Linked DNA regions of Homo sapiens. The protein of the gene in region 2 purifies or fractionates together with the protein of the main gene of each other region. This does not show direct contact. Each region holds a gene or a part of one and is shown on either strand. Other genes may lie near its edges.

Region 1 (3,368 bases), on a different chromosome or scaffold from region 2:
GCTGGGATTAAAGGTGTGAGCCACCATGCCTGGCCTACGCAAAACAATCTTAACAAACTATTTACTTCAAACACTCTTCACTTTATCAATACATCTTTTTCTATTGAAAATGATTCCTAAAGAACAAAACAGTAGAGAAAACAGATCAACAAAACATTTGAGAACCATATTCCTCTCATATTAAGGAGAGATATATAAAGTAATGTGCACTATTTTACTTTGCATCTTATAATTAACGTCCCATACCAGCGAATTTTAACAGCCTGGAACCTCTCTCCACAATAAGCATACACCACTAACATTTTGCATGTAATTTCACAGGTTCATGGTCCTCCTAAAGCCTCTTCATAGACTCCGTTTTCAGAAGTGTAACCATTTCCAGAAATTGGCTCATTTTCCCATGTACATCCTAGAAATGCCAACTTCTAACAATTTTCAACTTATTTTGTAAGCCAATCAATGTTACCAGTTAAAAACTACCTAGAATATTAATGAGCACAAACATATGCAGCTTAAAAGCATTTTATTAAGCATTTTTGGATGTTGCTTCCTACCACTTAAGAATAAAAAATGCATTTTAATAAAAACAAATCTATACTGAAGTCATTTTCCTTTGTGAGAGGAAATATGAATGAAATACATTCATACTTAAAAACAGAGTATTTTACTGCCAAAACTTTAAATATCTCAAGAGCATACCACATTTTAAACACATTATGGTCATGTAGCTATTTCAATATTCCTGGGAGTGGTGGGCAATTAGCCTGTCTATGGCTTAGGATCTGTTTCCATGCTTGCTTCCTGAGCTTCTTCTACCTCTGAGAGTTTTTCATCATCTGTAATTGAGAAGGAAACATAAAACCTTAGTCAAGTTTGCCTATATTTTATATTCGATGAACACATGAAAACATGTTTATCCTTTATTAGCCAATACAATTAAAGCTAAGATGGCTACTAGTTGAATCAAACTTTAAAATTTATGTGATAGACTTCACTTAAAAAAAAAAAAATCCAGGCAGGGTCTGGTGGCTCATGCCTATAATCCCAGCACTTTGGGAGGCCAAGGCAGGTGGATCACCTGAGGTCAGGAATTCAAGACCAGCCTGGCCTACATGGTAAAACCCCGTCTCTACTAAAAATACTAAAATTAGCTGGGTGTGGTGGCATGCACCTGTAATTCCAGCTACTAGGGAGGCTGAGGCAGGAGAATCACTTGAGCCTGCAAGGTGAGGATTGCAGTGAGCCAAGATTGTGCCACTGCACTCCAGCCTGGGTGACAGAGCAAGACTGTCTTAAAAAAAAAAAAAAGAAAAGAAAAAATGGGTCTTAGGCTATTCTTTAAAACAATCAGAAGATCAGGTAACACAAAAATTTCCACTTGCCTATAGTGAATATAAAGAGCAAGTCTCCAGTTCCCCAAAGCACCCACTACTCAGTGGGTATGCAAATGTTCGTATGTACTGATTTCTTATTATTGCCTGCCTGGGTCCTGAGTTGTTATATTATAGTAGTCAACTACAGTGAACCAAGAAAGATTCCAAATCTATCATCCTTGAATTTTTCTTAATTTAAACCACTATGTATATGTTTAAATCCTATATTACTACAAATTAAGACTTTTCTACATGTATTCAAGAAAGTTGAACATGAGTACCTTCTAACGTCATCCAGCTACACTGTTCAGAAATTGAAGGTATACTGTCTCTCCAAGATGTATATTTCAAAAGGTACATCCCTGGGTCATTTAAAAAATCTTCATAAGCATTTACTTTGAGACTATTTCTACTTACTTTCCAATGTTTGCTGAAGTTCATGGATGGTACTAAGAAGAACATGAAACTGTTTCCGTCTCAATTCCAGCTGTGTTAACAAGAAAAAAATTTATACAAATGACCTGTATATATAGATATATAGACAGACAGATAGACAGATCATGAAGGCTAAATATATATGCGAATACCTTATCTTCAACACTTTCTTTAATGTGTGAAAGATGCTCTAATTCTTTTCCCAGAGCCTCTAGTTCCCTGGAAATAATAAAACAGTGTTACATTTTGCTGAATGGGGGAGAAGAGTTTACAATTAATGCCTAACTTTTAAGTTACTAGATAGGATTTTTAAAATAAAAAAAGGGCTTATAAGGAGTTATAACACTCCATTATGGTGAAACTTTTAAAGCTGAGGATGATTTCTTCTTAACTTCTAAATATGGACTCACTTTCATTAAAATTACATTTTTGGATCCATTTTTAAAGTACAGAAAAATACAGATAACAGAATAACAAGACCCAAGAAATGATACATATTGTGAAGTTTAACTTCGAGGGTTTTTTATTTTGGTAAAAGAAATAAAACATTGCCAATTAACTCGAAATACCCTTTGAATCTTACGCCTAGTCCTCTATCCTGGGCCTTTTTATCTCCTCTACCTCCCACTCAGGCAACTACTATATCATTCTTATTCTTTTTTATGCATATACTTGTATCCCTGAATAATACACAGTATTGGTATATAATATTTGAAAGGGGGTTCTAACTTTTATAAATGGTTATTATTCTGTATGTGTTTCAGGAATTTAAATATAATTTAAAGTTTATTATGTGTCTTTTCACTGATTATGTTTTGAGAGCTGTGTTTTAAAAGGGCATAACTAGTTTATTCTTTTTAACTGAAATTCAATATTTTAATATATGAAGACCATATTCTATTTATCCATTGTGATATTGATGCATATTATATGCATTTATTTTAGACATATAGCTGGTAAGGTTAGAGGAAAATAAAATCTAACAGAGAAGTATGGGAAAATATAATATTGAATATCTGACCCCTCCTTTTGAAACATATTTATTTCTGCAAAAATGAAATGCCTACGGTAGTTTTCGAGCATTTATGTATAAAGGTTAGTTCCTTTCAAAGTAAAGCTCTACACTTACTTTAATGTCTCATGCCTGTCTGGATGGTGCTGAATCACTTTTGCCAAAGCATCATATTCTGTAAGACATAAAAATATTTATCAAACTAAGGATTTTTTGAATGTGAATTATCAAAACAAAATGTGTAATATCACAAACCTCTCCTAATCACTTTCCTAGTACATCAAGAAATGAAATCACTGAAAGATGAGTATTGCCAGTTTTAGTTAACTGAGTTATAATTATAACGATACATAACATCAAAAGTGTTCCAAACAGGGGTTTTAGCTCCCACTTTTTTTCCATTTATATGTCCTGGACAGAACGTAAGAGGTCAGCATAAGCATAAGCAAATTTAAGTTATTATTGATTATCAAATAGACTGATTCTGAGAAGGATCTTACTCACTAGTTGTCCAAAAAGTAAAATAAAATAAAATACAATCAGTGAAT
Region 2 (3,650 bases):
CAAGCTCATGAGAGATAGTGATTTCCCTGAGCTCACAGTGGGTCATTGGCTGAGCTGGAGCTTTGAGCCTGGCTGGGTGGCATGGGTAGCAGGATGCTCTGGTAGCAGGGGGTCCCTGAGGCAGCCAGGCCTAGAAAGCATCTTATACGGGTGCTCCGTGGCCACCAGGACCACCAGTGGAAGGCGCGGCGACTGCAGAAGATGGAGGCCTCGGCCAGGCTGGAGCTGCAGTCAGCGCTGGAGGCCGAGATCCGCGCCAAGCAGGGCCTGCAGGAGCGGCTGACACAGGTGCAGGAGGCCCAGCTGCAGGCTGAGCGGTGAGGCTAGGGGCAGGCACTGGGGGCCAGGGCCCGCACAGAGGCCAGTGGCGAGCCCTTGCCATTCTCCCCAGCCGTCTGCAGGAGGCCGAGAAGCAGAGCCAGGCCCTGCAACAGGAGCTCGCCATGCTGCGGGAGGAGCTGCGGGCCCGAGGGCCAGTGGGTGAGTGGCTGCCAACTGCTTGCCCCGGAGCCAGGCTCCCCCGCGGCCTCCCACTTGCCAAGGGGGCTCCACGATGGCCTGGCAGGGTGGTGGAGACAGGAGTCTGTTCCTGGACTCTGCCGCTTACTCCATCATCTGTGACCAGCACTTCTGGAGTGCCTGCTGTGCCCAGCCCTGCCCCACCCTGTGGTCATTTCCCATTTTACTGAGGTGGGAACTGAGGCCCCTCCTGGACCCTAGTTCCTCAGGCCAGGGACCCCAGGCCAGTGACCCACCCTTTCTTTGCAGACACCAAGCCCTCAAACTCCCTGATTCCCTTCCTGTCCTTCCGGAGCTCAGAGGTAAGGACCAGGCCAAGGGGCTTGTTGGGGAGAAGTTCTGGGAGAGGCACAGGGACCTTGACTTTGCTCCTCTCTCTCCCACCCCCAGAAGGATTCTGCCAAGGACCCTGGCATCTCAGGAGAGGCCACAAGGCATGGAGGAGAGCCAGATCTGAGGCCGGAGGGCCGACGCAGCCTGCGCATGGGGGTGAGGACAGGTGGGTCCATCGTAGGGGGCCTGGGCCCCGCCCTTGCCCGTCTCACCTGCTCCCCCGCCCTCCTGCAGGCTGTGTTCCCCAGAGCACCCACTGCCAACACAGCCTCTACAGAAGGTCTTCCTGCTAAGGTCAGTGCCCAGAGGGGCAAGCAGGGTGGGGGCACCAAGCAGTTCTGCCAGGCTGAATGGGCACTGTGGGGACACTCCACGTGCATCGTGGCTAGCAGGCACAATTGGGGTGGAGGTGGTGGCGATGAGCTTGCCTGCCGCCATAGATTGGCTGGGACTCGGAGGTCACTGTTGCCTGGCTCAGCCCCTTGTCTTTCCTGACCCCTCAGGGATGGGGCATGGGGCCCTGGGAGGCCTTGGGTAATGGCTGTCCCCCTCCCCAGCCCGGCTCACACACGCTGCGCCCCCGGAGCTTCCCATCCCCGACCAAGTGTCTCCGCTGCACCTCGCTGATGCTGGGCCTGGGCCGCCAGGGCCTGGGTTGTGATGGTGAGAGTCCCCACCCACTATGCTCCAGCCACGGTCCCAGGTGTGTGGCCCTGGCATACCCAGGCTGTTTCTCCCATCCCAGGGTCACTGGCACCTGCTGGTCAAATTTCCTCCTGCTCAGCTTTGTTCCTTTTCTCACTTGATGAGGAATTGGGGACAGTTCGGGTGCCACCGTGGCTTCAGGGAAGCTGGCTCTGGACATGCCCCCGTCCTGGTTTGGGGCTGTCCCCTCCCAGCCTCACCTCATCCACCTTCTCCACTTTCCCCACAGCCTGCGGCTACTTTTGTCACACAACCTGTGCCCCACAGGCCCCACCCTGCCCCGTGCCCCCTGACCTCCTCCGCACAGCCCTGGGAGTACACCCCGAAACAGGCACAGGCACTGCCTATGAGGGCTTTCTGTCGGTGAGTGGGGGCCGAGGGAGGGGAAGATGGGCATGGGGGGCTGAGGGTCCCTGCAGCCCTCCCATGCTTGCCTTTCCGCCAGGTGCCGCGGCCCTCAGGTGTCCGGCGGGGCTGGCAGCGCGTGTTTGCTGCCCTGAGTGACTCACGCCTGCTGCTGTTTGACGCCCCTGACCTGAGGCTCAGCCCGCCCAGTGGGGCCCTCCTGCAGGTCCTAGATCTGAGGTAGGTGCCGGGCAGTGGCATGGGGCAAGGGACTAGTGGTAAGGGGGGCAGTCAGGGACAGGGAGATTTCTGACCTGTTCTGTGAACCTCCCAGGGACCCCCAGTTCTCGGCTACCCCTGTCCTGGCCTCTGATGTTATCCATGCCCAATCCAGGGACCTGCCACGCATCTTTAGGGTGAGTGCCTGGGATGAGATGGAGCAGCCACCATCCACCTCCCCATGCTGTCCCAGCTCTGGCCACTGTCCCCCCACTTCATACTGCCCTCTTGGGCCAGCCCACAACCACAGCACGCTTTCCACGTGAGCACCTGGCCCGGTCTCACCTCGTTTAGGATCTGCTGTGGCTTCCCATCGTCTGCGGGGCTCGGGGTGCTCCTGACCTAGCCCTTGAGGCCCCAAGGCTCTGACCCTGCAGGCCTCCCAGCCCTCTCCCTTGGCACCTGTCTCTGCTCTGGTCACACCTTGCTCTCTCCAGTTCTGAAGGCGCCCTGTGCCTGTGTGCACCACATTCTCAGTCCTTCACATCTGTCTTTGCACGAAATTGCCGGCCCTGCACTGGAGCCCAGCCCCTCACCTACCTTGACTACTCCTGGTTAGTTACTCGTCCCTCAGGCTTCAGCAGAAATGTCTGGTCTCCTGGGAAGTCATCCTTCACTTCCCGGCCCCGGTTTGGGTCCCTCTGTGTTCCCACTAGGCCCGTCCTTGCCCCATTATGGCGCTGGTCGCATGGCTCTGGAGTTGTCTGTTTGCCTGTCTGGCCTACTCCCTGCTGCTGACAGTGCACGCTAGGCCCCCGGGGCACAGCGGCTGCTGGAGGCAGGAAGGGAGGGAGGACAGATGGCTCTGGTCCACGGCCCTCCAGCTGGGGTCCTTGCCCACAGGTGACAACCTCCCAGCTGGCAGTGCCGCCCACCACGTGCACTGTGCTGCTGCTGGCAGAGAGCGAGGGGGAGCGGGAACGCTGGCTGCAGGTGCTGGGTGAGCTGCAGCGGCTGCTGCTGGACGCGCGGCCAAGACCCCGGCCCGTGTACACACTCAAGGAGGCTTACGACAACGGGCTGCCGCTGCTGCCTCACACGCTCTGCGCTGCCATCCTCGGTGAGCTGGTGGAGGGGACTGGAGGAAGCAGTTCAGGCCTGCGGGAGTGCTGGTGTCTAGGAATAGTCCCAAGGGCCACTGCTACTGCCCATTCCCTGCAGCCACGAGACACAGACTGCCTTGCACCACGTATGTGCTCCAGCCTCCTGTGTGCATGGCTGGGCCCCCAGGTAGGGGGCCTGGCTTATCCCCACTCCATTTCGCTGTGCCTCAGTTTCTGCTTTTTCCAAAAGAATCTCAAGCAAGTGGAAGGAACAAAGGCTTTTTTTTTTTCTTTTTCTTTTTTTGAGACAGAGTCTCGCTCGGTCGCCCAGGCTGGAGCTCAGCAGTGCAATCTCAGCTCACTGCAACCTCCGCCTCCCAGATTCAAGCGATTCTCCTGTCTCAGCCTCCAGAGTAGCTGGGATTG

Evidence for each region.
Region 1: the proteins of CDC42BPG (region 2) and THOC7 fractionate together in Homo sapiens (co-fractionation; one large-scale study listed by BioGRID). This does not show direct contact.

What each region holds. Positions count from the first base shown.
Region 1 is NC_000003.12:63,833,364-63,836,731, forward strand, and holds the end of THOC7 (THO complex subunit 7), read right to left. Parts: intron 2,996-3,368; coding exon 2,938-2,995; intron 2,028-2,937; coding exon 1,961-2,027; intron 1,861-1,960; coding exon 1,791-1,860; intron 837-1,790; coding exon 769-836; 3' UTR 507-768; downstream 1-506. UniProt on the Homo sapiens protein: Component of the THO subcomplex of the TREX complex which is thought to couple mRNA transcription, processing and nuclear export, and which specifically associates with spliced mRNA and not with unspliced pre-mRNA.
Region 2 is NC_000011.10:64,831,096-64,834,745, reverse strand, and holds part of CDC42BPG (serine/threonine-protein kinase MRCK gamma), read left to right. Parts: intron 1-168; coding exon 169-317; intron 318-391; coding exon 392-480; intron 481-768; coding exon 769-821; intron 822-909; coding exon 910-1,008; intron 1,009-1,086; coding exon 1,087-1,146; intron 1,147-1,355; coding exon of another isoform or gene 1,356-1,409; coding exon 1,410-1,515; intron 1,516-1,786; coding exon 1,787-1,920; intron 1,921-2,002; coding exon 2,003-2,142; intron 2,143-2,236; coding exon 2,237-2,318; intron 2,319-2,618; exon of another isoform or gene 2,619-2,735; intron 2,736-3,024; coding exon 3,025-3,241; intron 3,242-3,650. UniProt on the Homo sapiens protein: May act as a downstream effector of CDC42 in cytoskeletal reorganization. Contributes to the actomyosin contractility required for cell invasion, through the regulation of MYPT1 and thus MLC2 phosphorylation.